Linked DNA regions of Homo sapiens: regions 1, 2, 4, 5 and 6 are each linked to region 3. Evidence: fine-mapped expression QTL. A gene starts in region 3. Each other region holds a variant in brackets. All regions are shown on one strand. Distances are from middle to middle.

Region 1 (5,072 bases), 35 kb after region 3:
CATGGCATCACCCATCACATGACATAACCCATCACATGGCATCACCCATCACATGACATCACCCATCACATGACATCATGCATCACATGACATCACCCATCACATGACATCACACATCACATGACATCACCCATCACATGACATCACCCATCACATGACATCACCCATCACATGACATCAATGTCCCATAGATAAGCAGAACACTAAATTGATTCTGTAGAGTGAATATGGGATGGAAAAATCCAACTCTAATCATACCCTACTCACCAAGCAGGAAAGACATGCATAAGCTTCACCTGAAAGTCTTATTTTAGGGCATTGTTGTGTAATCCCAGCATTTTGGGAGGCTGAGGCAGGATGTTTGCTTGAGCCCAGGAATTTGAGACCAGCCTGTACTGGCAAGACCCCCCATCTCTATAAAACATTTAAAATAATAAATAAATAAATAAATAAATAAATAAATAAAAACAAAGGCTGTGATTCCAGGAGCAGAATATTTGGTAATGGAACATAAAGAAAGACAAAGGCCAGGCAGGCCATTCGAGGCATCAGTTCAAGTCCATGCCCATGAGCTGCCTCCTGCCTGCTCAGGCAACCTCCCAGGCAGCTGAAATCAGAAAAACAGATGAGGGTCACAAGCATTCAGCTTCCTGGAAAGGAGTGTCCCCAAAATAAATCACTTGAGTTATTGTAGGGTCTCAGTCTCTCTTCTTGTCTGGATGGTGGTCGGGTTCTAGATTTGCAGGAATGAGGACCAGACCCAGGTAAATTCACCAAAGTCGTATCCCAAGAGGAGATCTCCCAACCATGGCCTTTGCATCGTTTAACTCATCAACCTCAGAAGCACTGGGGGGATTGACCCAACCACATGAAACCAGGTTTCCATGGCCCATTTTAGAAGGTAGAATCATCCCCAGGGGCACAGGTAACATATGTCCATCTGCTGGGCCCCAAGCCCAGCACATTCTCCTTAACTCCCACCTCAATGTCACCACTTCATGTCCTCATTAAATCCCACAAGAGGGAGGTCAGAAAGAAGTTCTGAACTTTTTCTGACCTCCCTGCAGTGGGATGAATTTGAGACTCAACACAGGCAGTCGGGGGAGGGAAGAGGAACTTATATCATGAGTTGATAACAGCACTGCGTGACTTGTGCACTCGCCGCATTTTAAAGGCTGGCAGTACCCCATTTTCACAATGTCCATCTCATCTGTCCTCCCTGACAGCTCAGGGTGGTAGGCCAGGCTATTCTTGAGTCCACACTGGACAAGGCTGTAAATAGACTTGAGTCACCTTATTTGAGCTGAGTTCCTTTACCCGTGAAGTACCCTTTGAGTCATCCTTCGGGTACACCCCCTCACCAACCTAAACCTTAGTTTTTATAGCTGCAAGACGGATGGTGCATGACCTCTTCTTCCCCTTTCAGCCCCAACTTTCCATGACTCTGAGTCAGTTTCCATGACTCCCAGTTCAGGCCATTCTAGTCACCAACCAGGCTGGGCTGCCTCAGCCAGCACAAAATTTGAAGCTGGGGGGACTTGCTGCTTCAAAATATCTATAGAGAGTGGCTTTTTCTAAAGTCAACCTCTAAATCTCTGTCCCCAGGAGGAAGGATGTTCGCATTGACAAAGGGTGGAGGCAAGTATTGGGCCCAGTACTAGGGCCCCAGTGATAGGTCCACATTTGAGATAACAGGGAGGCCGGAAGCTCTGCCCTTAGCACACCTTCCTTGCCAGGTGGAAGCTCCCAATGTAGGCTTTGGAGGTCTGTTCCCTCAGGCACGTGGACTCAGGCTGTGCTTCATGCATTGGTCTGGAGCCTTGGAGCAGGCCTGGAAGAGGCTGTATCTCAGATTTGTGTTCTTCAGGATGTTTCTTACCCAGCATTTTGGACACTGAGCATCTGATTGTGAGGATGGAGTCCACACACTGAATGCGTGTGATTCTCTGGTGAGCAGTGTAACTTGAACTCCAGTGGAAGACTGCCAGGCCATGGAGGTGTTGGCAGCAGCCTGGGACTTCAGCTGAAATGTGACTCAGGCCACAGGGCCAGTCAGACAATTCAGGAAAACATGTCCTCAGCAAACAACCAAATAAGGCACCAGGGACCAATCCTGGAGAAACAGGGACCTTTCAGACAGAGAATTCAAAATAGCTGTTTTGAGGAAGCTCAGTGAAATCCAAGATAACTCAGAGAAGGAATTCAGAATCCTATCACATAAATTTAATGAAGAGATCAAAATAATAAAAAAGAATTAAGCAGAAATTCCAGAGCTGAAAAATGAAATAGACACACCAAAGAATGCATCAGAATCTCCTAACAGCAGAATTGACCAAGCCAAAGAAAGAATTACTGAGCTTGAAGACAGGTTATTTGAAAATACAGAGTCAGAGGAGACAAAAGAAAAAGAATGAGAAAGAATGAAACATGCCTATAAGATCTAGAAAATAGTCTCAAAAGGGCAAATCTAAGCGTTACTGGCCTTAAGAGAAGGTAGAGACAGATCAGGATAGAAAGTTTTATCAACGGGATAATTACAGAGAACTTCCCAAACCTAGATAAAGATATCAGTGTTCAAATACCAGAAGGTTCCAGAAACCAAGCAGATTTAACCCAAATAAGACTATCTCAAGACACTTAATAAAAAAACTCCCAAAAGTCAAGGATAAAAAAAAGGGTCCTAAAAACAGAAAGAGAAGAGAAATAAGTAACATAAAAGGGAGCTCCAAAACTTCTGGCAGTAGGCTTCTTGAGGGAAATCTTACAGGCTGGGAGAGAGTGGTATTTAAGTGTTGAAGGAAAAAACTTTTAT[C/T]GTAGAATAGTATATCTAGTGAAAATACCCTTCAAACATGAAGGAGAAATACTTTCTCAGACAAACAAAAGTTGAGCAATTTTATCAACACTAGACCTGTCCTATAAGAAATGCTAAAGGGACTTGAGGTCAGGAGTTTGAGACCAACCTGGACAACATGGTGAAACCTGTCTCCACTAAAAATACAACAATTAGCAGGGCATGGTGGTGCATGACTGTAATCCCAGCTACTTGGGAGGCTGAGGCTCGAGAATCACTTGAACCCGGGAGGCAGAGTTTGCAGTGAGCTGAGATTGTGCCATGCACTCCAGCCTGGGTGACAGAGTGAGACTCTCCATCTTAAAACAAATAAATAAATAAAAATAAAAAAAGAAAGAAGTGCTAAAGGCTAAAGGGAGTTCTTCAATCTTAAAGAAAAGGATGTTAATGAGCAGTAAGAAATCATCTGAAGGTACAAATCTCACTATTAATAGTAAGTACACAGAAAAACAGATTCTAACCCCTGAAATTGTGTGTAAATCACTTATATCTTGAGTAGAAAGACTAAAAGAAGAACCTATAAAATATATAAAAAATAATAACTATGCTTTTTTTTTTTGAGATGGGGTCTTACTTTGTTGTCCAGGCCTGGAGTGTAGTGACATGACCTTGGCTCACTGCAACTTCTGCCTCCCTGGCTCAAGTGATCCTCCCACCTCAGCCTCCTGAGTAGCTGGGACTACAGGTGCACACCACTACACCCGGCTATTTTTTGTATTTTTAGGAGGGACAAGTTTTTGCCATGTTGCCCAGGCTGGTCTTGAACTCTTGGGCTCCAGTGATCTGCCCACCTTGGCTTCCAAAAGTGCTGAGATTACTGGTGTGAGCCACCGCACCCAGCCTAAAGCAACATTTAAGACATTGAGAGTATAATAAGGTATCAATAGAAACAACAAAAAATTAAAAAGTGGGGGGATGAAGTTCAAGTGTAGAGTTTTTTTCTATTAGCCTTATATTTGCTTGTTTGTTAGCTTGTTATTACAATCAGTGTTAAGTTGTCATCAGCTTAAAATAATGAGTTATAAGATATTATTTCCAAGCCTCATGGTAATATCAACTCAAAAACATACACATACAACAGATACACAAAAAATAAAAAGTAAGAAATTAATACATATCACCAGACAAAATCAGCTTCAGTAAAAAGAAGACAAGAAGAAAAGAAAGAAGGAAGGAAGAGAAGGCCAGAAAACAACCAGTAAACAAGTAACAAAAGGGCAGGAGTAGTCTTTAGTTATCAATAATAACATTGAATGTAAATGGACTAAACACTTCAGTCAAAAGACATGGAGCAGCTGAATGGATTAAAAAGAAAAACTAGACCCAAGATCTGTTGCCTACAAGAAACACACTTCACCTATAAAGACATAAATAGGTGAATTAAAGGAATCGAAAAAGATATTTCATGCAAATGGAAACCAAAAAAGAGTATGAATAGCTATACTTATATCACATTACATAGATTTTAAGACAAAACTATAAAAAGAGACAAAGAAGAACATTATATAATAATAAAGAAATCAATTCAACAAGAGGATATAGCAATTGTAAGTATATATGCACCCAACAGTGGAGCACTCAGATATATATTGCAAATATCTTTATAGCTAAAATAATATATCCTCAATACAATAATTGCTGGAGACTTCTACACTACACTTTCAGCATTGGACAGTGCATCCAGACAGAAAATCAACAAAGAAACGTTGGACTTAATCTGTACTATAGACCAAATGGACCTAATAGATATTTAAAAGAACATTTCATTCAGCAGCTGCAGATACACAGTCTTCTCCTCAGCACATGGATCATTCTCAAGGATAGACCATATGTTAGGCCACAAAACAGGTCTTGAAATATTCAAAATAATTGAAATCATATCAAGTGTCTTCAGTGACCACAAAGAATAAAACTAGAAATCAATAACAAGAAGAATTTTGAAAACTATACAAAACATGGAAATTAAACAATATGCCCCTGAATAACTAGTGGGTTAATGAAAAAAAGTAAGAAGGAAATTTAAAAATTTCTTGAAACAAATGAAAATGGAAACACAACACAATAAAATCTATGGGATACAGTGAAAGCAGTATTGAGTATCTACATCAAAAAAAGTAGAAAAACCTCAAATAAACAACCTAATGATGCATCTTAAAGAACTAGAAATGCAAGAGTGAAGCAAACCCAAAATTAGTAGAAATAAAGAAATAATAAAGATCAG
Region 2 (5,072 bases), 21 kb after region 3:
CAATAGGGTTCTCACTTCTATGAGAATCTAATGCGGCCGCTGGTCTGATGGGAGGCGGAGATCAGGTGGTAGTTTGAACAACGGGGAGTGGCTGTAAATACAGATGAAGCTTCGCTTGCTTGCCCACCGCTCACCTCCTGCTGTAAGGTCCGGTTCCTAACAGGCCATGGGCTGTTACTAGTCTGTTGTCCTGGGGTTGGGAACCCCTATTCTAGGGGAGAATCTGTTTCCCTGCATTTTCCAGCTTCTAGAAGCCATCTGCTTTCCTTGGCCGGTGGCCTCTTCTTCCACTTCAAAGCAGCAACAGACCATCTTCCAATTGGACTCTCCCTCAACCCTCTTTCACTTAGAATATCCATGGAGATTATTCGGGATATTCTTCCTGTCTCAAGGTCCTTAACTTCATCACATCGGCAGAGTCCCTCTGGCCATGTCAGGGGACATATTCGCAGGTTCTGTGTATGAGGATGCCAACAGCTATGGGGGACATTATTCTACCAACCACGAATGCAAAGTTCAAGAAAACTAACACAGCTTCAAGGAGAAGGCCCAAGCTGTGAGGAGGCGGCATCTGCCTGGAGAAATAGACCTGGCTTTCTCCACCCTGCAGAGACCCCTGGCCTGGGCCTGAAGCTCTGAGGCCAAGAGACAGTCAAGAGAGGCTTCCCCTGTGATTCTCTGCCTGTTTATCCACTTCTGCGTGATCAAGAAACCCGTGTCATTGCCAAGGAAAGAGCCTATCTACACACAGCCTAACTGGAGTCAATCAGCGGAGGCACGGACTGCCATTTGATTATGCTCACCTCTAACCTGTTCAGCTTTCACCAGGCCTTTGTTACTCTTGCCACATCCAATTGCTCCACTAGAAAAAAATACTGAAGAAGAGTAGTTCAGGGTGGGAGAGGAAGTGCATTCAATTCTGCAACGAAGGAATCTGGGGTGGAGACATCCAGTGTGTCTTTGTAAATGGTGGGCTAGCTAAGGGGAGTCTGAGCTGCAAATATGGATTTGGGAATCATCAGGAAACAGGTAATCATTAAAGCCATGGAAATGGAGAGACTCCCTCCATGGAGGCTTGTCAGGTGAGACAAGATGAAGGCTGGAGAGGGAACCCTGGGTACCCCCGCAGTGTGCTGGGGCTGGCTCACAGGAGCTGGCTTGGGACATCTTTTCCCAGCTCTGTGTCCAGTGACATCACATGGATTACCTGACATCTGCCACCGTGGGAGTATTTACACTATGGAATTTGGCAAATATTAAAACCAGATTTTTTTTCTTTTTCTTTTTCTAGACAAGAGTCTCACTCTGTTGCCTAGGCTGGAGTGCAGTGGTGCGATCTCAGCTCACTGCAACCTCCGCCTCCCGGGTTCAAGCAATTTTCATGCTTCAGCCTCCCGCATAGCTGAGACTACAGGTGACTGCCACCACGCCCAGCTAATTTTTGTATTTTTAGTAAAGACTGGGTTTCACCATGTTGGCCATGCAGGTCTCGAACTCCTGACCTCAGGTGATCTGCCCACCTTGGCTTCCCAAAGTGCTGGGATTACAAGTGTGAGCCACCGTGCCCAGCTCCTAAACCAGAGATTTTTTCCCCCAGAGGGCTGGTTGTTAAATATTTGGCTCCGATGAAAACAGCATTGAGAGGACAAGGAAAGAAGGTGGTAGGAGACCATGGTGTCACATGCTAAGCAGGTCTAGAAGCTGGTGGGGGAATGGACTGAGAGGGAGATGGGGATGAGGAATCGGGTGTGCTAGAGACACACTCGGGACTCTTAAACACCAAACTGGCTCAGGCAACAGGAGCTGTATCTTGGGATTTTGTTTTCCAGGCTGTTTCTCCATCCAAGGCCCAGAGTCCGTGAGAGCCCCAGAGCAGGGGTTCGTGCCGGTGCAATGAGCTGTATCTTGGGATTCTGTTTTCCAGGCTGTTTCTCCATCCAAGGCCCAGAGTCTGTGAGAGCCCCAGAGCAGGGGTCCCTGACGGTTCAATGCCACTATAAGCAAGGATGGGAGACCTACATTAAGTGGTGGTGCCGAGGGGTGCGCTGGGATACATGCAAGATCCTCATTGAAACCAGAGGGTCGGAGCAAGGAGAGAAGAGTGACCGTGTGTCCATCAAGGACAATCAGAAAGACCGCACGTTCACTGTGACCATGGAGGGGCTCAGGCGAGATGACGCAGATGTTTACTGGTGTGGGATTGAAAGAAGAGGACCTGACCTTGGGACTCAAGTGAAAGTGATCGTTGACCCAGGTAAGAACTTTCTCATCTACACAAGGAGGCCCTGGAGCTCAGGGCTGGGAAAGTCAGTGCTCTTACCTGCTCCCCTCCAAGGCTGAAAGGGAATGATGGTGAGCCTAAGAGAGAGAGAGAGAGAGACAGACAGACAGACAGGCAGACAAACTGACTGGGAAGGAGGTGACAGAAACTAAGGGAGAGTGGTGGCCAGCATCGCTCTGCTATCTCAGTCCCTGAGGTCTCTCCAAGGAATCCAGGTGGGGCTTGGGATGGGGGTGGGAATGGGGACCTCAGCTTTGGTGACTGGTGGCCCAGCCCTGCTCATGACAT[G/A]GCAGAGAAGGAACCTAGAGCTGCCCAGGGGGTCCTAGTATTGAGTCCCACTAACTGCACCAACCCAGAGTAGCTCTGGGTGTCTTACAACACCCTCCTCTCTAGGTCCCCAGCCACCTGCTCCGCTACTTTATCTGGCTGTGTAAGATGAGCACGGGGTAAGAAAGCCCCAGGGAGGTGCATGGGTGACAGTGGACGCTTTAAAGCAAAAGGATGGCTTCCATCACGGGCAACGTCAGGGACCACTCTGGGTGCCCTGGCTTCTCCTCCATGCCTTGGACTCTACTGATAGACTCTGGGGTCATCCTGCTGCTGTTGCTGGAGTCTGGGAAGCAGCCCCCAACCCCCACTTCCACCCGCACACCCCTACTCAGTACTTCATCAGCTCAGTGTCCACTCGGGTCCATTTGGTGGTGATGTGGAAATAGACAATGCCGGCTTTAGAACAAGCCTGTGTACTGTTGGGGTTGGGACCAAAGAGGCACATGGACACAGTGGCTGCAGCTGAGTAAAGAGGAGTCCAGAAAGGGTCAAGCAAGACTTCCCCAGGGCTGCCAAGTAGGGGAAACCCAGAATATCTATGGGGGCAGAGAGGGGATTGAGCAAGACATGCAGGCGGTACAAAGAGACAAAAAACAGTGGCCAGTGTGGAGCTTTAGGGAGAGAGATGTTCCGGAGTCTTGGGTGGGGGATCTACAGGGGTACCAGCCTGTAAAACGATCAGGGGCTCCATAGGAACTGTTGTGATTGGAATTACCTGCAGCTCAGACAGGAGCCCACCTAGTGTGGCCAAAGCCTGGGACTTTTTTGTTTTGTTTTGTTTTATTTTGTTTTGTTTGTTTTTTGAGACAGGGTTTCAGTCTGTAGCCCAGGCTGGAGTGCAGTGGGGTGAACTTGACTCACTGCAGCCTCGACCTCCTGGGCTCAATCAATCCTTCCACTTCAGCTTCCTGAGTAGCTGGGACTACAGGGGCACATGACCACGCCTGGTTCATTTTGTATTTTTTGTAGAGATGGGATTTCACCATGTTGCCCAGGCTGGTTTCAAACTCCTGGCCTCAAGCGATCTGCCTCCCTTGGTCTTCCAAAGTGCTGGGATTACAGGCGTGAACCACCGTGCCTGGACAGCCTGGGACCTTTGAGAAAAATTTGCTGGGGCCGAGGACTGAAATAAAAGATCACTGTTGGGTCATGGATACTCAGTGCTGGGCTGGGCTCAGGGCCCCCCTGACCAGACTGCCCCCAACAAATTGCCTATATGGTTGCTCCTAAAAATGTTCCGTTTCTCATAGTCGATGTTCTCTAGTTAACTGGAGTGTGCCCTTTTCTTCATGAGCCTTCTGGAGTCCCCTTTCCCTTTTTCTGGACTACCCCAATTTCTGGACAGCCCATTTCCAGAATCTTCTCTCCTTAAGCCCTGCTCAGGCACCACTCCAGTGGAAAAGACCAGAAATTTATTTCCCCATCCAATAGTCCCACTTGCAGGATAGGTGGAAAGAAAGTATGAAAAAACCTCTCTCTCCCAGAATAAACTACAGTGTTTACTCCTGTTTAATTTTTAATTTTTCTTGCCACATCTGAACATGATGAGGAAAAATGTCTGTGTGTTGAGATTGAAGTGACTCAGTAGAAGCATGAGGGGCTGTAGCAGGAGAGAAAAATCCTCCTACTCCAGGGAAAAGGGTCTTCTGGTGAGGGCTGGCAGGGTCGCGTGGCTTTGTGACCCATGCATGAGCTCCCAACTGTGCTAATAACCCATGGCTGACTTTGCCTGTGTCTAGAGGGAGCGGCTTCCACAACAGCAAGCTCACCTACCAACAGCAATATGGCAGTGTTCATCGGCTCCCACAAGAGGTGAGTCATGTGGTTCTTTCTCCTGCCCCTACCTGGGGTCCCTCCTAAGGGGAAGCCAAGCCTGGGAACTCCTGCCTGTCACCAAATGCCAGCACCTGTTCTAGCCAGAGTCAAGGCCCCAAGCCCACCCTCCATCTCTCTCCTGCCCCCATCACTGCAATCCACCATCTCCCCACTCTAGCTCTCACCAGAAAACCGCTCTGCAGAACTCTTCTCAGTGAGCATCATTCTCCCAGTCAATCAGTCAACCTTGCATTGGTGGCCTAATGGGTGCCAGGGGGAGATAAGATACCACCCTCTGTGGTGCAAGACATCAAGGGACACAGAACAGGAAGGGTGATTTACCAGCCTGGAGCTAGCATTAGCAGGAACAGAGGCAGGAAACACAACCTGTATTTGGTGACCTCTGGCGCTTCTGTTGAGCTGAGATGTACTTTGGGCAAAGAGGGTCCCAGAAGGTGATGTTAGAAAGGAAGATGGGCCCCGTGCAAAACCAGCCAAGGTGACTGTTGGAGGACCCCTTGAGGTTGAACCAAGGAGGAGGTTTACAGGAATCTTCAGAGTGGGGCTGCCCGGCCCAGGGTCACAGGCTTTGGCTGGTGGCTCACAGGGTCAGGGGATGGGAGTGACATGGCCTGGGGATGCCCAG
Region 3 (5,072 bases):
CTTCAGCCTTTTCCCTGTGCCTGATCCATGAATCACACGTGAACCTGATGGACACAGACGCCCTGAGCTGTGACTCCATGTCTCATGTGCACGCCCTGGCCAGCTGAACCTCGAGCTGTCACCAACACCTCTAAGTGCCTGATGCCCTCTCTGCACCTTTCCATTTCTCCAGGAGCTTGGCATTGCTTCCTTCAACGTTTTCACAGGGAGGAGCAGGTCCAGGACTCCCCTGCACCTTTGCCACCATAATGGCCCACACTCCCCGGGTCCAGGAGTGCAGAATATGTGGCTGCTTCCATTTGCTGAGTGTGTCAATTCAATGATGCTTTCGAACTTTAAGAAATGACAATACATAGATTCTGGACCTATCATGCCCACTAAGTCAGACCTGGGTGAAAACTCCATTGTTCCCTGATCTCCACAGGCCTTTGCTCAGAATAGTGGACTAAGCCCCAGGCTGGGCCTCTCAGGACTGGGGTCCCTGCAGAAGAGGATCCAGGATTCCCCCCAAAACCTGACAATTCCGTTCCTTATGTAGACACATCCTGGCCAGTGTCTTCTGGTCCCTGCGGGAGGGCTGGTAGAAGATTATCAGTGTGAGTTGTGGCATGGTAGCCAGGCCTTTCCTTCCTCCTTCCTCAAGGGGACCTGACCTCCCCTTCATTCCAGGGCTGTGGCTTTTAACTGACTCAAATATGGAAATTGGTTGAGGGCCGTGACTTCTTAATGTGGTAGTTAACTGAGTCTTTTGCTTACTAGTGCAGACCATGTCTGCTTATCCAGACAAAGGAAGACGTTATCAGCTGACCATCGTTTCGGTTCCAGGGATGCCACACCCAAGACCCCTGTGAGGCAGATGATCCCCATGAGTCCACCAGGTCAAGGAGGGACACGCCTGGGGGTCCTCACCTATTTTTACATTCAGCAGATACTTATGGGAGCTTCTGGTGTATCAGACACTGACCTGGCATTGGAGTCCAGCCGTGAACACCCAGGCAAGGAGCTCTGTTTTCATTGAGCTCATATTCCAGGCGGGGGATAGAAATGATAAACAGATGCAAAAATACGTGCATAAATTCCAGAAGAAATATAAAAGTCAGAGATGAAAAGAGTCACGGAATGAAATAAGAGAAGTGGGGTGACTGCTGTGCAGGAGCTGAGGGGGACTGTGGTGAAGCCCCTCTAATAGGCGCTGAGCAAGCAGGGATCAGGAGAAAGGAGGGGGTGAGCGCCAGGATCCCTGGAGGAGGAGCCCTGAGGCAGAGAGAGGAGCAGGTGCACATGTCCTGCCAGGGGCAGATGCCTCCCTGGGTCAGGTGGCTTCAGGGCCTCCAGACAGCATTTCCTGTCTCCTCCCCAGCCTGGGCAGGAAATGGTGCACCAACTTTGGATGACTAAGTCCTCTGAGGCAGTGGGACATCAGGATGTCATGTATCCATTCACCCATTCATCCTTTCAACAGCCAGTTTGTTAAACTGCACTTGGCAGACTCTGGAATGATAACGGGCACAGCTGTGAATGAGACAAGAGGCTGCACCTGCTCTCAAGGGGCGGCCACCCTAGATGGGAGCAGACATTGACTCGCCAACAGAAAGACTGAGGAAGACGAGAGGGAAGTGTGAAATGGGTCATGAGGACCCCTAAAAAGCGAGCCACCATAACCCGGGAAGGTCAAGGAACACGCAGGCAACCCTGTCGGCTGGAGCCAGGCAGAGGAGTGGGAGGTTGAGGGTCTGGACAAAGGCCCGAGTGGGGAGGGTGGCAGCACCAGTGTGAACCTGGATCCAGGAGGCTGGAGACACCTACCAGGTGCTGGGGCCTGCCAGGACCTGTGTGCAGAGGCCAGGTCAGGTGGGTGCCATCCTGTGACAGCAGGAGCCATTGGGAGTTCAGCAGCGCCTCCCCAGGGCCATGTGTGTGTGTCAGGGATCACATTGCTGATTCTGTGGAGAATGAAAGGGGTGGGTATGAGCAGAAGGGGAGACCAGGTCAGCCCATGAAAGAGCCGGGATACTTCAAAGCCAGGCCCAGGCCAGACCTGAGCACTGGGCTAATTGGAGGCCCTGGGATTGCACTGGGCTAGAGATAGTCCCATGATGTGAGTCTGGGGGCATCAACACCAATGACCCCAGTGCATGCTGTGTCCCTGAGAGTGTAAATGGAGGGAGGACAGGGCAGGTCGAGGGTGCAGAGACCCCTTCATGGTGCCAGGTTTGCCCAGACTCCCATCACTCTCCACTCAACCTCATGGCTGTGTGCACATACTGGTGCTATTGACTCTGATAGGAAGAAAGGAACAGAAATCTGTAGGAGGGTTGGGAGAGTCAAGGAATATGCTTAAGGCATGAGAAGGTGGAGAAGGGGTGATGCCCTCCAGGACAGACAGGAGGTAAATCCTGTGTCTGACTAGCCTCCTTGCCCTTTCCAGGGTAAAGACACCCTGAGCCCATCACGTCAGGAGAACCAGCCATGCCGAGTGTGGATAGACCTGGGTTCCCGCCTCCTGGGAAGGCCTGTCTGCCATGTCTGCTCCCTGCGGAGGCCCCTGGCCATCACAGTGGACCCAGGATAGACACCAGCAGCCGCTGCTCATGACAAACTGTCCTCTCAGTCACCAAACACCCCTCCGTGTGCCCTGGGGTGTGTGCTGGCTCAGTCGCAGCCTCACATCCTCCACAAAGTCCCACTTCAGCATCTTCACATGTCTGAACTCTCTCTCTATTCTCAGTTCTCTGCCCTGATTCCCACTGGGGCATGGATTTTGGCAAGAAGACAAGATGGAAAAGGAGGGTCTCGGGTGGGTGATGCCGCTGTGTGTGTAGGTCTGGGGGCAGGGGCACAAGAGGAAAACTCCCCAAGCCTGTGGGATTTTAACCTGGTTGGGGACTCAGCACCAAAAAGGGACATGCAGATGGTGTCTGGGTTCATAGCGCTAACTTCTGAGGCCAGAAGAAGAGCTGGGGGTCTTAGGGGCAGAGGTCTCTGCGGGGACCTAGCTGAAGATTAAGGGACACAACCTCTCTCTGGTCACCTCCAAGGCTAAAGAAGGTGGCAGATTTAGCCTCCAACCACAAGATTGTCCATCCTGACCAGGAAGTGACATGTCACAGAGGGTGGAGCAGCCCATGTGGTAGGAAATGGCCCAGCTTGGCTCTGCCTTCTGCAGTGTGAGTAACACACTGAAGCCAGAAGCTGTGGGCTGTGGGGAAGTGGCTGCATCGCCACCCAAGGGACCCTGGACTTTGCCAGACGTCAGGGTTGAGAGGAGCCACTAGCACCATCCCAGAGCTGTCAGCACCGGCCTCAGCCCAGGCGGCTCTCTCCCTGAGCTTCCTGTACCCTGACCCTCTCCAGCCTCAGACCTGAGACAGGGCTGGACAAGGAAGCAGAGAGCAGAAGAAAAGCAGAAGCGAAGCTCAGATCTGCTGGGAGGAGATTACATTTTGTCCCCTCCTGGGGTCTTGCACAGTGGCAGGTGACATTCGTGTTACAGGAATGACTGCCAGGGCCTGGGCCTCGTGGCGGTCTTCAGCTCTGCTCCTCCTGCTTGTCCCAGGTGAGTGGGCCGACCCTGGACTTGGGGAGCTCTGTCCTGAGTGGGAGAGGGCAGGGAGGGGTGCAGGCGCTGGAGTAGCGGTCATAGAGGGGAGTGGGGCAGGGAGAGGGGAGGAGGGCAAAGGAGCACCCAGGAGCGGTCAGCAGCTGCCTCACCAGGGGACAGCAGGCGGCAGGGCACAGCACGGGGGAGGCCTATTCCTCTGTGCCCGAGACAGGAAGCCCTGGTGGGAGGTGATGCTGTGACTGTCATTGCCAAAGTTATCCAATCACAAATTTTATCTGGGACGATCACACACACAGTCACACTCACACGCACACACGGTCACACTCACACAGTCTCACACACATGCACACACAGTCACACTCACACAGTCTCACACACACATGCACACAGTCACACATGCACACACAGTCACACTCACATGCACACACAGTCACACATGCACACACAGTCACACACAGTCACACTCACACAGACAGTCACACTCACACAGTCACACACACAGAGTCACACTCACATGCACACACAGGCCCGCACACACCCAGTGTTTCCCTAGCCTTGCCTTTCCAGTCTCCATGGAAACTTCCCATGCCCTTCCCACCTCTGCACAGAGGGAGCCTCCCACCCTCAGTCCCTGTTCCTGGGTGGACAAAGGCTGCCTGCCTGCCATTGCCTTCTCCACACGCCCAGGGTCCATGAGGGGCTGACACTGCGGCACCCCTGACCAGGCCCCTCTGGTAAGGAGACAGGATTTTGGCTTGTATTTTTCAGGCTATTTTCCTCTGAGCCACCCCATGACCGTGGCGGGCCCCGTGGGGGGATCCCTGAGTGTGCAGTGTCGCTATGAGAAGGAACACAGGACCCTCAACAAATTCTGGTGCAGACCACCACAGATTCTCCGATGTGACAAGATTGTGGAGACCAAAGGGTCAGCAGGGAAAAGGAATGGCCGAGTGTCCATCAGGGACAGTCCTGCAAACCTCAGCTTCACAGTGACCCTGGAGAATCTCACAGAGGAGGACGCAGGCACCTACTGGTGTGGGGTGGATACACCGTGGCTCCGAGACTTTCATGATCCCATTGTCGAGGTTGAGGTGTCCGTGTTCCCGGGTGAGCCCCTCCTTTTCTCAGCACCAGGCCTGCCTGAGCCTAGGGCTGGTCATTCTGTCCCTGAAGAAAGAAGTGGAACAGGAGGGTGTGAGCCTGGGGGTTGGTGAGTCAGGACACTGTGTGCCGCTGTGTGTGGATGAGTGTGAGTGCGTCTTTGTGTATGCGTGCCTGCATAGGAGTTGTGGTGTGGTTTGTGTGTGTGTGCACCTGCATGTGTGTGTTGGGAGGGTGGGCGCCCACAAAAGCACCCTGGCCCTGTGGCTGGAGACCCCCCGCTGTGGGCCCTCCCTCACGGCCTCAGGCCTGAAACTTTCCTGGGTGGGGTCTGTGAGGCCACCCCTGACTCTGGGGTCCTTGCTACCTCCCTGTATTGACAAGGGCCGGATCCATACTGAAGGGTGCC
Region 4 (5,072 bases), 430 kb after region 3:
GAACTGCTACACCATCGGAAGTGGCTTATCCACTGGGGGATTCCCTCCTTGCCTACTCAGCGCCTTGCAGGTGACAGGTGCTGAAATCAGTGCAAACAGAAATGAGAGGATCCCCAAATCAAAACCAGGAAATATTCCTGCCACTCAGCAGCTCTCCTTCCCGCTCCCCGGAGACAGGTGGCAGAACTCCCTATTATTGTCTTTGGGGGCAAATTGAGCCTGGGGCAGAGGAGGGAGAGAGAAAGACAGCTCAACTTGGGGTGGCAGGTCACAGATTATGTCCTGATTGTAAATGTCTGACCCCTGGCCCACCAGCTCTCCGTGTAACCCTCTTCCCCAAACAACCATCTCCTGATTTTCCTGTATCCCCGTCCCGTCTCCACCTCCCGCCTGCCCCTGCCCCCACCCCCTCCCCAGTTCAGATCTGCCTGGAGGCCTGGATGGCGACCATATGTTTAAGATGTTCCACTGCTGCTGTTGAGAGCCAGAAGGGCTGCCTGGGAGAAGGCACTCAGTCAAAGCTGTGTTTATATACACAAGGGCCGGCGTCTTTTTATTATGCATAATTATACGCTTCTTAATGTACAGGCATTTCGAGCCATTTTTCCTTCCTTGGTGAAGTCGCAGCAGAGGCGGGTGTGAGTCCGGGTGCTTGGGGGCCGGGAGATGGCTGCTCTTGTCTCCTTAACTCGGGGGTGCTGAGCCCTGAGCATGGCGGGTCCCTCGACCGATCAGCGTGCGAGGTCGCTCTGACCGAGAGAACGAATTCTTCCAAGGGGATCGGGGAGCCGGGACGCGGTGGTACATCGTGGAAATGTTGTAGATCATGAGGTGAAGCCCTCTCTCTCCCTCTTTGTCTTTGAGCCAAAGCCTCAGATACGCACTCCTGCCCTCATCCTGAAAGAAAATGTTAGATCCTTCCTACAAAGCATTGTTTTACATCTATACCCAGCGATTCTCCTCTTCTTTCTAAATTTCACAAACTTAGACTCTGAAAACCTGACATTGAGAGGTGACAGCATGCTGGCAGCCCTCACAGCCCTCGCTCGCTCTTGGTGCCTCCTCGGCCTCGGCGCCCACTGTGGCCGCGCTTGAGGAGCCCTTCAGCCCGCTGCTGCACTGTGGGAGCCCCTTCCTGGGATGGTGGAGGCTGGAGCCGGCTCCCTCAGGCTGCGGGGAGGTGTGGAGCAAGAGGCACGGGGGCTAACCGGGGCTGCGCACAGCGCTTGCTGGTAGAGTTCCCCGGGCGTGGGTTTGGCGGGTCCCGCACTCGGAGCGGCCGGCCGACAGTGAGGGGCTTAGCACCCGGGCCAGCAGCTGCGGAGGGTGCGTCGGGTCCTCCAGCAGTGCTGGCCCACCGGCGCTGCGCTCGATTTCTCGCAGGGCCTTAACTGCCTCCCCGCGGGGCAGGGCTCGGTACCTGCAGCCTGCCATGCCTGAGCCTCGCCCCTGCCCTCGCCCCCGCCCCCGCCCCCGCCGTGGGCTACTGCGCGGTCCGAGCCTCCCTGACAAGCGCCGCGCCCTGCTCCGCTGCGCCCAGTCCCATCTACCGCCCAAGGGCTGAGGAGTGCGGGCGAACGGCGCCGGGCGGGCAGGCGGCTCCACTGGGTGAAGCCAACTGGGCTCCTGAATCTGGTGGGGACTTGGAGAATCTTTATGTCTAGCTCAGGGATTGTGAATGCACCAATCGGCACTCTGTATCTAGCTCAAGGTTTGTAAATGCACCAATCAGCACTCTGTGTCTAGCTCAGGGTTTGTAAATACACCAATCGACACTGTGTATCTAGCTAATCTAGTGGGGATGTGGAGAACTTTTGTGTCTAGCTCAGGGATTGTAAACGCACCAATCAGCACCCTGTCAAAACGGACCAATCAGCTCTCTGTAAAACAGACCAATGGGCTCTCTGTAAAATGGACCAATCAGCAGGATGTGGGTGGGGCCAGATAAGAGAATAAAAGCAGGCTGCCGGAGCTAGCGGTAGCAACCCGTTTGGTTATCTTTCTGTGCTGTGGAAGGTTTGTTCTTTCACTCTGCACTATTTTGCAATAAATATTGCTATTGCTCACTTTGGGTTTATATTGCCTTTATGAGCTGTAACACTCACCATGAAGGTCTGCAGCTTTACTCTTGAAGCTTAGCGAGACCACTAACCCACCAGAAGGAAGAAACTCCGGACACGCCGCCTTTAAGAACTGTAATACTCAGTGCGAGGGTTCACGGCTTCATTCTTGAGGTTAGTAAGACCAAGAATCCACAAATTCCAGACACAACATGGTAATATATGGGGTCACTATCCTTATAGTGAGGGTTAAGCTTTAAATCATCACAATGAAAGCTTTTTGTTTCTCTAGCGTAGCAGCAAGGGAGAATAAGGCCTCTGGAGTCCAGGACTTGGGTTCAAATCCAAGCTCCACCGTAGCTGTGTGACCTGGGTTTATCATTT[C/T]GCCTTTTTGAATTTCGGTTTTCATTGAAATAATGGGAATAACATTAGTTCCTATATCATGGAAAGTACCTAGCACGGTCCTTGGTGCCTTGTAAATGCTTGGAAAATTATCCTTTCTCCTGTGGTGATGGTTCTAATAGACTGAGTTTTATGAGAGCAAGAGTGGGTGTCTCCCATCCACTGCTTTCTTTTTGATACCCTGAACTCTGCTGATGGCAGCAAACATTTGCTGAATCGTTGTTGAACAAGGAATGAATGAACACCGGGTTTGGAATCAGGGTCTTTTTTTGAGACAAGAGTCTCACTCTGTCTCCCAGGCTGGAGTGTGGGGGCTCCATCTCGGCTCACTGCAAGCTCCACCTCGGAGTCACGCCGTTCTCCTGCCTCAGCCTCCCAAGTAGCTGGGGCTACAGGCGCCCACCACCATGCCTGGCTGATTTTTTTGTATTTTTAGTAGAGACCGGGTTTCACCATGTTAGCTAGGATGGTCTCAATTTCCTGACCTCGTGATCTGCCTGCCTTGGCCTCCCAGAGTGCTGGAATTACAGGTGTGAGCCACCGCACCCGGCCAGGGTCTGTGTTTCATTTACCGACTGTGGGGCCAGGCCGTACAAGACCTCTGAGCTCCACAGATGCAAAGTGAAGAAGTTATGGATTGGCCCCATAGGCATGTGACGATGAGATTAACTGAGAGGCGCTGAGATAAAGCACGTGAAGTGTTTAGCTTGGTACTCGGTGTCAGGTCATGTCCAATTTTATTAGGAGCTTATATTCCATTCTGTAGCAGCTTGCTATTTTTATTTTTTTTTACTTTTTTTTTGAGACAGTCTTGCTCTGTCGCCCAGGCTGGAGTTCAGTGGCGCCATGTTGGCTCACTGCAAGCTCCGCTTGTCGGGTTCGCGCCATTCTTCTGCCTCCGAGTAGCCGCTTGGCTAATTTTTCTATTTTTGTTTAGTAGAGATGGGGTTTCACTGTGTTAGCCAGTATGGTCTCGAGAGATCTCCTGACCTCGTGATCCACCCGCCTCAGCCTCCCAAAGTGCTGAGATTACAGCGTGAGCCACTGTGCCCGGCCGCAGCTTGCTATTTGAAAGCATTTTTATTTCCATCACCCCATGTGATCTTCAAAACAACCTGTGGGCTGGGCAGTCTTCATCCCACAAATAAGAGGGTTTCAAGCCGGCCAGTGGAATCCCAGCGCTTTGGGAGGCGAAGCAGGGGGATCGCTTGAACCCAGGTGTTTGAGATCAGCCTGGGCAACATAACAAGATCCTTTAACTATAAAATTAAAAAAACCAGTTTCAGAAGGGTGAAATGACTTGCCAGCCACAGTGTCCAAGCCCCATGGCACTACCCGCCCCCTACCTATCCCGCCTTCCTGTTTGTCACTTTTGTTCCAATGCAACTTATTTGGTCCTTTGAGAGTGTCCCAGACTTTTAAATGTAGGAGATGCTGGAGCTCTGTGGTGTACATAAATCTTTCTTTGAAGCCTGCTTCCACCAGGAAGGCCCCCTAGGATGAAAAGACTTAACAGTCCAAAATGTTATCAGCCCACTTTGGAGAGCCCTTTTCTGGGCCCCTACCCTAGTGGGGAAGCACACACAGACTGCCAGGCTGTCATTCATACGGAGTTCACCCTGGGAGGAGCAGACAGATTACTGTGTGTGGGGCAGGGCACTTCCCACACACTTGCGTGGGGTTTCGAGCGGGGACGGTGGCCAGGGGCCCTGTGTATACACATTTTTTTTGTTTGAGACAGGGTCTTGCTCTGTCTCCCAGGCTGGAATGCGGTGGCGTGATCACGGCTCACTGCACCCTTGATCTCAACAAGCAATCCTTTCATCTCAGCCCCTCAAGTAGCTGGGACCACAGGCACGTGCCACCAGGCGTGGCTCATTTTTTTTTTTATTTTTGTAGAGACAGGGATATCCCTATGTTGTCCAGGCTGATTTTTGAAATGTGCTCAAGCGATTCTCCCACCTTGGCCTCCCAAAGTGTTGGGATTACAGGCATGAGCCGCCGTGCCCGGCCAACGCATATGCTCTGTGCTGACAGATTTCTTCTGAGCTAACAGATGTTGTCCTTTGACCCATATTGACCCTGTTGGAACACCCTAAATATTATTTAGCTGTCTCTCACCAAAACATTACAAGTTAGGCAGTTAGAGCTGTTTTTCAGATTTACCTGGCTGTTATGTCTTTTTTTTTTTTTCTTTTTTTGAGATGGAGTCTTGCTCTGTCACCCAGGCTGGAGTGCAGTGGCGTGATCTTGGCTCACAGCAACTTCTGCCTCCCGGGTTCAAGTGATTCTCCTGCCTCAGCCTCCGGAGCAGCTGGGATTACAGACACCCACCACCACGCCCAGCTAATTTTTGTATTTTTAGTAGAGGCAGGGTTTCACCGTGTTGGCCAGGCTGGTCTCGAACTCCTGACCTCAGGTGATCTACCTGCCTCGGCCTCCCAAAGTGCTGGGATTACAGGTGTGAGCCATCACACCTGGCCCATCCTGAATTTTCATCTGCTAAACGTAGCAACCCTAAGGACTGGTGACTTCCCAGCGTTGGGGCAGCTGCAGCTCTTCCCAGCTCCACTCTGAAGAGCTGGGGACCAGCCTGCCTTCCGGTCTCAC
Region 5 (5,072 bases), 610 kb after region 3:
TCTTCTTGGTTTGCACTCTCTGCACCTCTCTTTCTTTTAACCTTTTTTTTTTAAGGAAAACATTTTTAGAGACTTTAATAACTGTGGAAGGATGCTGTAAGGCGGGCAGGGAAATTGATCATTTTTATTCGGTTGTGCGTGATAAAATGTAAGTTTGAGCCATGAATCTTCTTACCTTGAGGGAAAAGAACGGTGTGCCTGGCTGTTAATATGACTCCCTTTTTGGAGATTTTAATGAAGGAATCCCGCTCCCCACCGCAGATTAATTCATAGCTGTGGACAGGGCGGGGCTGAGGCGGGAATACACTCTTTCCTCCAATCTAGCAACTGCTGGTTCCGTCTCTCTCCACATCTGCGTGTATTCGCTGTCTATTATTTTTAATCAATGTCTCACCAAACACATATAAAGCTCCCACTGTGTGCAAGACACCATGCCTAGCACCAAGGAGGGGAGATGCTGAGGAGTATCTCAGAGTCCTGTGTAAGTTGCCCAGAAGAGGGCTCCTCTCCAGGCCCTGCCTGTGAGCACCCCAGATACCTCCCCACTTGTCTTGGCCACAGCTATATCCCCCTACTGGAACATGGCAAGAGATGAGGCACACGGCTTGTGTTGGCCACAGGACTCCATTTTGGGTACCCTAAAAGGAAAGGCAGGGCTGCAGTCTCAGTCAGCTTGGGCTTCCATAACAGAATGCCATAGACGTTTATTTCTTACAGTTCTAGAAGCTGGAAGTCCAAGATCAAGGTGCCAGCTGATGTGGGTCCTGGTGAGGCCTCTCTTCCTGGCTTGCAGATGGCCACCTTCTTGCTGTGTCCTCCCGTGGCAAGGAGGGAGGGAGAGAGACTGACAGCGCATGCATGCTCTCTAGTCTTTTCCTTCCTCTTCTTATAAGGCCATTCATTCCATCATAGGGGCCTTACCCTGTGACCTCATCTAACCCTAATCACTTCCCAAAGTCCCCACATCTAAATACCATCCCACTGGAGTGTTAGGGCTTCAATATATGCATTTTGAGGGGACACACATATTCAGTCCGTAACAGACCTGTGTTGTGGAGCTCATTTCCTCTTTCTTCTTCTTAGGGGGTTGAGTATGGTGGAGTTGGAAAGTGTGATGTATGGTGTGGGGAGAGGACAGAAAGCGACCTCTGCTGCCAGGCGGAAAAATGCCCACCCAACTACTCCTGCCACATCAAGTCTGTGGCCAGAGTGTAGGAGGGTTCAGGCCACTGCTACCTCCCGCATCCTTGCCCTAGCATCCCTTCCTCAGGTCCTAATCCTAAACCTCCATCAGCTCCCTGCTTTCTGGATCCCTCCCGCAGCCAGGCCCCTCTCTTGCTGTGGCTCACCAGTCATCTGGACATTGCTGGCAATAAGCTTCCTTAAACATCCATGGTGCACACGCTGCTCTGCAAACAAAGACAGGGCATCCAATTATTCCAAAAACAACCTGTTTCTGTTTGCTTATCTGACTCGGACTGTTTGCCCCTGACATCGCTATTGATCAATTTGAACTTTTCCCCTTCAAGTCCAACATGATTCATAATTTGTGGTTGGGAAAAGCCACCTGGGCAGTGGGCCCCCTGGGACCAGGCCCTGTGCACCCATAATCTCATTTAATGCTCTATGTGGTTGGTATCATGATTTCTATCTGAAAGACAAAGAAAACAGGGGCTGGGGGAAGGTGAGCATTTATCCAAATCTCCCAGCTTATAGGTGATGGTTATCAGAATTTGAACCCAGGTCTGTCTGTTCCAAAGACTGGCCCCTCTCTAATACATTGAGATGCCTCCTGTGTAGGCACCCAGTTTTGATGGTCACCCCAATTCAGAATTGCAATCAGACAACAAACACCAGAGAATACAAAAGGCTGATTGTGACTCTGCGTAGGGAACAAGTGTACCAAGCTGTGCCGACAGTTTGATGGTGGGTCAGTGTGACATCTTGGAAAAAATAGCAGCTGATTATATTTTTCAAATCGACATGTGTTTTTAAAGACTTTTGAATCAGATGTGAGTCAGGAGCATTAGGGCAAAAGTGTAACACTTTTTTTTTTTTTTTTTTTTTGAGACGGAGTTTCGCTCTGTCGCCCAGGCTGGAGTGCAGTGGCGTGATCTCGACTCACTGCAAGCTCCACCTCCCGGGTTCACGCCATTCTCCTGCCTCAGCCTCCCGTGTAGCTGGGACTACAGGCGCACGCCACCATGCCCGGCTAATTTTTGTATTTTTTTTTTTTAGTAGAGACGGGGTTTCACCATGTTAGCCAGGATGGTCTCGATCTCCTGACCT[C/T]GTGATCCGCCCGTCTCGGCCTCCCAAAGTGCTGGGATTACAGGCGTGAGCCACCGCGCCCGGCCAGTGTCACACATTTATATTTGGTGAATGTGGGAAATTTCTCCCATGAAAACAAAGTGAGCAGTCACTCTTGAGGTCTGGGTGCATAAATTATAGTACATTTATACCATGCGATATTATGCCCTATTGAAAACAATTAGAGCAATATTGGAGGACAGAGAGAGAGTTCCCCAAGGTATTGTTGAGTGAGGAAAACAAGATGCAAGAAACTGAATATCATATATTTCTGCAAAACAAATAATGACAAAAGGCTGGCTATACATGTATAAGTGCACACATGTGTATAAGTGAATGCATGTGGGTGTGTATAAAAAGTTACATACATGTATGTACATACATGTCTACCACATGTAGTGTGTGTATGTATATATTTATACAGGATAATATGATCATGAAGAAAAATGTGGAAGGATCCCTACTAGGCTATTAGCATGAATTTCTAGTGGTTATGGGTGGAGGACAGAGGAGAGGTGTCAAGGAAAGTCAAACTAACAGGAAAAAAAACTAAGAGTCTGCACAAACACACACACACACATACACATGAATCATGTAATGACAACATTTATGCATTTAAATAAAGGTATAGGCATTCATGTAAATACATTCAAAGAAAAGTTGTAAGTTATTTTCCTACAGCAACAGAGCACTTACCCCAGAGATCTGCATGAAGGCATGACAGTGAACAGGCCTCTGCAGATCCAGACGGTACAGTCTAGAGGCTGGGGACAGCTACTAGGAAGCCACATCACTGGCTTCCCACTCCCTGCAATGGGAAGGGTTGGTTTATTCCTTGGCTTTACAGCCGGCACAAGGAAGAGGGGTACCTGTGTGATTTGGGGGTCTTCTCCAGCTGCTGCCTTAGAGTCCCCCACCTGGTTCAGGGGTAAGTGAAACAGTAGAAGGGGAAAATAAACTCTTTTCTACTTCTACTAACATTAGGGTAACCGTAACACTGATCATTTAAACAGGGACCACTTTGAGAGTGAAGAGCAGAACTATGAATAATTCAGGTGCAAACCACGACTGTCCCTAGCACACCTGGCTGTAGGGTCACCCTAGCTATAGCTCCTAAATGGGGGGTCTACATTCTAAATTTCACCATCTTCTCCATGCAAATGTGAGTATTAATTGATCCAGAACCCTGTAATTGTTGTAACTGGAGCCCAACAGGACTGAAATTACTCTTAATTATCATCCCATCCCAGGAGGGAGGGTCCTTTTCCCTCAAAGTTACAGAGACACGTGGTGAAACCAAGGGGGACGGGTGTGTGGCTTCCATGGGGCCCTGCTTAACCACAAATGTCAATGCTCTGGGCTGAGCAGGGCTGGGATTCCTGCACATGCTCTGTGTGGTTGGCCTGATCTATAAGAGACTAAATAATGACCAGGCTTGCTGCTAGAGCACTTTGTAGCTGATGTGTCTGGCATCACCAGCTTGGATTACTAAATGGGTACATGCTGATTAATCTACAAATTAGGTTGATGAACCCCCACCCTAGCTGTCTCAAGGATTTGTATATCTCCCCGGTGCCCTTCTTCCCAAGCATCCCTTTGTTAATTCAAGGGATCTACACAGAGACTGGTATTTGGACCAGGGCAGAGAGAAAGATAGAGGGGGAAAGATTATTTTTTCCCAAACTATTAATATCTACTAATCTGAAATGCCATAATTGAGGGCTAGAGGCAGCATTTTTCTTGGCTAGCAGGGGGAAAGCTATTTGAAATGGCCTTGAGAATATGACTAACATGAAGGAAGCAGACTGCAGAGATAAAGATGAAAGAAAGACCCTGATGATACTGTTTGAGCCACTTGCACCCTCTTCCTTGTGCTGGATCTTCAGGAGCACCTGAAGTCTGCTCCCCAAAGTTGGCAGAAAGAATAATGGCCCCCAAAGACATCCACATCCTCACCTCTAGAATCTGTGAATATGCTACCTTACATGACAAAAGGGGTACTGCATATATGATTAAGAATTTTGAGATGGGGAGATTACCCCAGATTATATGGGTTGGCTCAGTGTTATCACAAGGGGAAGCAGAACAGTTAGAGTCAGGGAGGGAGATGTGGCCATGGAAATAAAGGTCAAAGTTATGCCATTGCTGGAAGTGGGCTGTGAGCCAAGGAATTTCAGGCATTCTCAGAACCCAAAAGGCAAGGAATGAATTCTTCCCTACATCTTTTAGAAGGAATGCAGCCTTGCCACCATCTTGGTTTTAGCCACATAAACCCATTTCTGGATTTCTGGCCTCCAGAGCTGCAAAATAACACTTTATGTTGTTTTAATCCACTCACTTTGTGGTAATTTGTTACAACAGCAATTAGAAAACCAATACTCTCAGCTTTCTGGTGGCATGAAGCAAATTTTCTTGAGTTAGACTTGATTTTCCATCATTTGTAACCCCAAGAATCCTGTACTAGTAACCAGCTCCAGGAGGACTAACATCCCTTTCCAGAACAGCCCAACTACGATACTCTCCCAACTTGTCCTTTACCTCAGAAGTCCTATAACTAGGGCTTGAGAGGAACATGGGGACAGATTCGTCAACTTTCTCCTGCAAATGAAAAATCCAGTCAGGCTCAGATAGATCCAATGACTTGCCTGAGCAGTTGAAGGGGTTTCTACCCAGCATGGGTTCTAGATCTGGAGTCCATGGACCGGCTGCTGTGGCCCAGTGGACCTGTGAAGTCCTAGAAAAGAGTACAGGTTTGAACAAGTATG
Region 6 (5,072 bases), 67 kb before region 3:
CTCCCGTTCTGACCTCACTTCCTTCCTAGACCACTTTGAGCCCCTGCAATAGATCACATTTTCTTTTTTCTTTTATTGAGACATGGTCTCACTCTGTTGCCCAGGCTGGAGTGCCGTGGAGCGATCTCGGCTTACTGCAACCTCCGCCTCCTGGGCTCGTGATCCTCCCACCTCAGCCCCCTGAGTAGCTGGTACTTCAGGTGTGCACTACCATGCCTGGCTAATTTTGTATTTTTTAGTAGAGACAGCATCTTCCCGCGTTGCCCAGACAGGTCTCAAACTCCTGACCTCAAGTCATCCACCCGCTTTGGCCTCCCAAGGTGCTGGGACTATAGGAGTGAGACACCATGCCCAGCCTGACATTTTCTTCTCTTAGCAGCACTCATAACTCCCATATTCCATTTCCTTATCTACCTGACAAAACCCTCATCCCTGGATCAATCCTAAAATAAAGGTCACTAATCATCCCAGTTTGCCCAGGACTAAGGGGTTTCCCAAATGTGGGATTTTCAGTGCTAAGGCTAGAAAAGTCCTGGGAAAGTTGGTCGCCCTGTCTAAAATCCACCTGCTCTAGCGCTGCTGGGGAAAAAAAGTGAGAAAATGGTGCCTGTGGCTGCCAGTAGAAGTTAAGAGTTTCCAACATTACTCTCCCATACATCTACCTTCCTGAGAACACACAGGACATCAGTTTCTTTCCTTCTCCACTTGCAAACTTTCATGCAATCTACACTCATTCTTCCCCTTTCCCTTTCGGGTTGAGGACAGGCTTCCCCATCCTGCCCAAGGGTGATCCTCCTGGGGCTGGCTCCTTGTCCTGTGGTTTTCTGCCTCCCCATCCCTCTTGAACCAAATTCCCCTGCCCCCTGCCCCTTAGCTATCCACACCATCTCCTGTCCTCAGACTCACACTCTATCATGTCTCTCACTTCCCAAAAGCATCCCATGGTCCGGCATTCGCCTCTGCTAGGTGCCGCCCATGTTTTCCTCACTGCTGGCCTGGGGGTGGATTAGGCTTCTCCCCTGTGCTCCCATTGCACCTGCTGGGGCTCCTTCCCAGGGCTGCTTCCAGCGGAAGTGAGTCCGTCTGTTTATGTGTCTCTGCCCCTCCAACGGGGTGGGGCTCATGCCACGTCCATCAACGAATCTCCAGCAACAGAGAGGTTGAACGCGGCTTATCGGATCACACTGAGCCTGTGTCGGGCACCGGTGAAGGGCTGAGCCTCCAGGACAACTGCTTTAGGGAGATCATGAGCTGGGAGTCCAGTGGCAATGAGGGAGTAGACTATGTCAATAGTCTGGTGGTCACCTGAAGTCCTTAGGAGGAGCCGAGTGTCAACCTATCCCCTCCCTAGGGGTGGCCTACAGTGGCCTTTCCACATGGGCCGGGCGCGGTGGCTCACGCCTGTAATCCCAGCACTTTGGGAGGCCAAGGAGGGCAGATCACCTGAGGCCAGGAGTTCGAGACCAGCCTGATCAACATGGAGAAACCCCATCTCAACTAAAAATACAAAATTAGCCAAACGTGGTGGCATATGCCTGTAATCCCAGCTACTTGGGTGGCTGAGGCAGGAGAATCGCTTGAACCCGGGAGGTGGAGGTTGTGGTGAGCTGAGATTGTGCCATTGCACTCCAACCAACCTGGGCAACAAGAGTGAAACTCCATCTCAAAAAAAAAAAAAAAAAAAAGAGTGTCCACATGAAGGGTGCTCAGAGCCCCCTCTCATGGTCTCTACGAGGCTTCTTGGGCCACAGGCTGAGCCATCTTCCTTTAGACTCCTCCTTCCCCTCCTCCTCCTGGAACTCCACATCTGGCTGCGGAAGCCCAGAGAGACCCCTGCCCTCACCCCAGGCAGAGTGGGATGAGGGCAGAGTGGGCAGAGTGGTAAGAGTCTTTCTCTGAGATGCAGAGAAAGACCTGGCACTTATTGGAGGGGACTCTCATGGCTGGTTCTGGTAAGGGCTCTTTTTGTCCCTGAGGGGTTTCACCCAGGAGGTGCCCTGGATCTGGCTTCAGAAGATCTTTCCAGCCTCTTCTGTGAGTGGGTGATTCTGTATGACATCCATACGGGTGTTCTGTGCATGGCTGGGAGCCCAGGCACGGCTGATGCATCATTTTCATCTCCAACAGCAATTACAACCCCAAGGAGGACCACACATCCAGCCACACCTCCCATCTTCCTGGTGGTGAACCCTGGGCGAAACCTCAGCACCGGGGAGGTGTTGACCCAAAATTCAGGGTAAGCACGCAGGGCCTGGAGGCCATGGAGGGAGCAACCCTGGGGTGGAAGCTGGGGGGTGGGGGTGGCGCACCGTGACCTGAGATCGTCACTGTCTGCTGTTTCTCTCCATCTCTGGTCCTGATTCTCATACTCTCTGAGGCTGCATGTGGATGCTGAGTGGGAAATATCACTTGTGCTGTGAACGCCTTTCCCTATGGGGCAGCTACTGGGACTCAGGTCGAAGGTTGAGTTCAGGTGGACGTGCAGCCCCTCCTCCCTTCCCCACTCCTTCCTGTCTCCTTCCCCATCCAGCTCCGGACTTGGGGTCCCAGTTCTGTGGCCCTTTTCAAAGGTCTTTGCTCAGCTGGGGATTTTGCCACCAGGAGCTGTCTGTGGGGTCTGTGGGGAGATGGGCCAGCTCCAGGCTGGGGTTTGAATCAGTTCTCTCTCCTCTCCCAAAGATATCCAGAAAGGGCTGTGATATTGCTGCTAGACCCTGAGGGGAGGGAACAAGGAGCTGGAGTGGAACAGTGAGAGTGGTGGCCGGGTGTGGTGGCTCACGCCTGCAATCCCAACAGTTTGGGAGGCCGAGGCGGTGGATCACTTGAGTCCAGGAGATTGAGACCAGCCTGGGCAACATGGTGAAACCCTGTCTCTACTACGAAATACAAAATTAGCCAGGTGTGGTGGTGCGCCTGTAGTCCCAGCTACTCAGGAGGCTGAGGTGGGAGAATCACTTGAGCCCAGGAAGTCAAGGCTGCAGTGAGCCATGATTGCACCACTGCACTCCAGCCTGGGTGACAGAGTGAGACTCTGTCTCAGAAA[A/G]TAAAAAAAGCGAGAGTGGGGACTGGTTTTAAGAAGTCAGTTGATAAAGTGGAGGCTGTGAGTGGGACAGGGACAGAGAGGGTGCTGTGGAGCGCACTCCTGGAAGTGGGTCCCTCTTCTGTCTTCACTCCATCACCTCTCCTTGATGAGACCCCCCGGGCAGTCCTTGATGGAGGGAGAAGGAGGGATGGGGGCCACAGAAGGGGCTGCCCTGGCATAGGTCCTTTCCCTGGCTGCTCCTGGGTTATTTGGGCTCCAGAGTCAGAGCATGGGGAGAGGTGGGGAGAGAAGGGTCCTGGGGGTTCTCCCGGGGAAGTGACTCATTTTCACCGTGTCCACCACAGGTTCCGGCTCAGCAGCCCTCACTTCCTGCTCGTGGTCCTTCTGAAGCTGCCCCTGCTCCTGAGCATGCTGGGTGCTGTCTTCTGGGTGAACAGGCCTCAGTGGGCTCCTCCTGGAAGATAGAGCCAGGCTGACCCGAAGCCCTGCAGAGCCCCATCCCCAGGAGTGCCCCGTGCAGGGAGTCAACCTTTCAGACTGGATGCGAGAGACCTGTGGACTCTGGAGGGATTTATTGTTCCTGTGCCTCAAAGGAGGGTCCTGGCTCTTAGAGGACACTCCTCTGGAGTCCTCAATGTGCAGCTTGGGGGTCCTCCTTTCTCCTCCCCAGTCCCCTGCCTCCCTGCCCTCATGCCCACTTCCCAAGGGCAAGAATTCCCTGGAAGTTGGCCGGGCACCATAGCGAGTGCCTATAATCCCAGCTCAGGAGGCTGAGGCAGGAGGATCGGCTGAACGTAAGAGTTCCAGGCCAGCCTGGGCAACATAGAGAGCCCTGTCTCAGAGAGAGAGAGAGAGAGAGAGAGAGAGAGACAGAGAGAGAGAGAGAGAGAGAGCGAGAGAGAGAGAGAGAGAGAGAAAAGGACGGAGGAAGGGAGGGAAAAAATTTTCTGGAGGAGCCTGGCCCTTCATTCTTCTTGGCACAAATGCTTCTCAGGCCAGTTTCCCCCAGGGCAATAACTACCTCCTTCCTGCAGACAGGAGTCTCCCTGAGGACACACCCCTCACAGCCCCAGCCTTTAGGCTCACAGAGCTCCATCTCTTCTCTGGGACAACCCCAAGGGAGCTTGGTCCCGGCAGAGCTTGCTCATGCAGTTGCCCAGTGTCCCACATGCTCAGGGCTCCTCTCGTCTTCTGACGCCCCTTGGGTCTCCCTGGCTTTAAGGCCCCTTCTCTCCCTGTAACCAGGCAGTGTGTGGCTGGGCTCAGAACATCTCTGCCTGGGTGGGCCGTGGATGAGCTGCTCCAGGTTAAAGTTCTGGGGCGAGTTGAAACAGTAAAGGGAGAAGGAGCTGGTGGGTGCCCCTGATATCACTCCTGGAATTCCCCCACCTGGAGGTGTCCAATGCACAAGGTCAACAGAGTCAGTTCTGTCCACTTTAGAAGTCTGGCTGAGACCACCTGTTAGCAATTAACCTTTTCCACAGGCAGAGCAGATATCGTTTTTCAAAGACAGGATGGAGGGCACAGAGGTGAAGGATACTTGTCCACACTTGAAGTGCACAGTGCTATCACCACTACTGGTGACCCCTGGCTCGGGAATGAGCTCAGTTGGTTTTCTGAATGTTTGTCAATTACTCTGTTTCCCTAAAGTTTGTGGGGAGGACTCCCACAGTCTGCCACAAGCAAGCATCACCATCTCCACTTGCTACCTACATCTGGACCAGTGCTCCCCCTCTGCCCCCAGGCCTGAGCTCATCCTGAGCTAGTGATGCCAGTGTCCAGAGCACATGGAGTGACCCTCTGAGTGCCGAGTGCTTAGGCAGAGCTGCCGTGCTCTGAACTTGAGCTCTGGTGGGGCTCCCAGCTCCATCATGCATGGTGACTAGGGGAAAGATGGGGCTGGCCCAGGACTCATGCTGAAAGAGAAATTCAATCTAACAAGGCCCATATTAATTATATTAACCCGGGAAATATGATGATGAGCAAGAAAGGAGCTTATGATTCATTTTATGAGAAGGATAAGCTCCCA

What was found.
Region 1: its variant is fine-mapped to the expression of CD300C in whole blood (TOPMed, PIP above 0.99).
Region 2: its variant is fine-mapped to the expression of CD300C in whole blood (TOPMed, PIP above 0.99).
Region 4: its variant is fine-mapped to the expression of CD300C in whole blood (INTERVAL, PIP above 0.99).
Region 5: its variant is fine-mapped to the expression of CD300C in whole blood (INTERVAL, PIP above 0.99).
Region 6: its variant is fine-mapped to the expression of CD300C in whole blood (INTERVAL, PIP above 0.99).

Annotation. Positions count from the first base shown.
Region 1 is chr17:74,509,078-74,514,149 of GRCh38, reverse strand. No RefSeq gene overlaps it. Among named protein-coding and RNA genes, the nearest start is that of CD300LB, 20 kb to the left of the region's middle. RefSeq lists an enhancer at 1,434-1,683. The variant C/T (reference allele first, on the strand shown) is at 2,813.
Region 2 is chr17:74,522,930-74,528,001 of GRCh38, reverse strand. CD300LB (CD300 molecule like family member b) reads left to right here. Exons shown (of 4, transcript NM_174892.4): 2 at 1,925-2,254; 3 at 4,351-4,423. The region is part of intron 1 of LOC107985074 (a long non-coding RNA gene); the gene reads right to left. Among named protein-coding and RNA genes, the nearest start is that of CD300LB, 6.0 kb to the left of the region's middle. The variant G/A (reference allele first, on the strand shown) is at 2,570.
Region 3 is chr17:74,544,206-74,549,277 of GRCh38, reverse strand. It overlaps CD300C (CD300c molecule), which reads left to right and starts at 3,163. Exons shown (of 4, transcript NM_006678.5): 1 at 3,163-3,556; 2 at 4,331-4,669. The coding sequence starts at 3,496. It also overlaps a transcript of LOC107985074 not described here.
Region 4 is chr17:74,109,808-74,114,879 of GRCh38, reverse strand. LINC02074 (long intergenic non-protein coding RNA 2074) reads left to right here and starts at 1,981. Exons shown (of 5, transcript NR_184085.1): 1 at 1,981-2,234. The variant C/T (reference allele first, on the strand shown) is at 2,445.
Region 5 is chr17:73,933,487-73,938,558 of GRCh38, reverse strand. LOC107985081 (a long non-coding RNA gene) reads right to left here. Exons shown (of 3, transcript XR_001752999.1): 3 at 4,913-5,041. All of the region lies in intron 5 of LOC105371888 (a long non-coding RNA gene), which reads left to right. Among named protein-coding and RNA genes, the nearest start is that of LINC00469, 110 kb to the right of the region's middle. The variant C/T (reference allele first, on the strand shown) is at 2,290.
Region 6 is chr17:74,611,089-74,616,160 of GRCh38, reverse strand. It overlaps CD300E (CD300e molecule), which reads left to right. Exons shown (of 4, transcript NM_181449.3): 3 at 2,128-2,236; 4 at 3,388-5,072. The coding sequence ends at 3,508. All of the region lies in intron 3 of LOC101928343 (a long non-coding RNA gene), which reads right to left. Among named protein-coding and RNA genes, the nearest start is that of CD300E, 10 kb to the left of the region's middle. The variant A/G (reference allele first, on the strand shown) is at 3,044.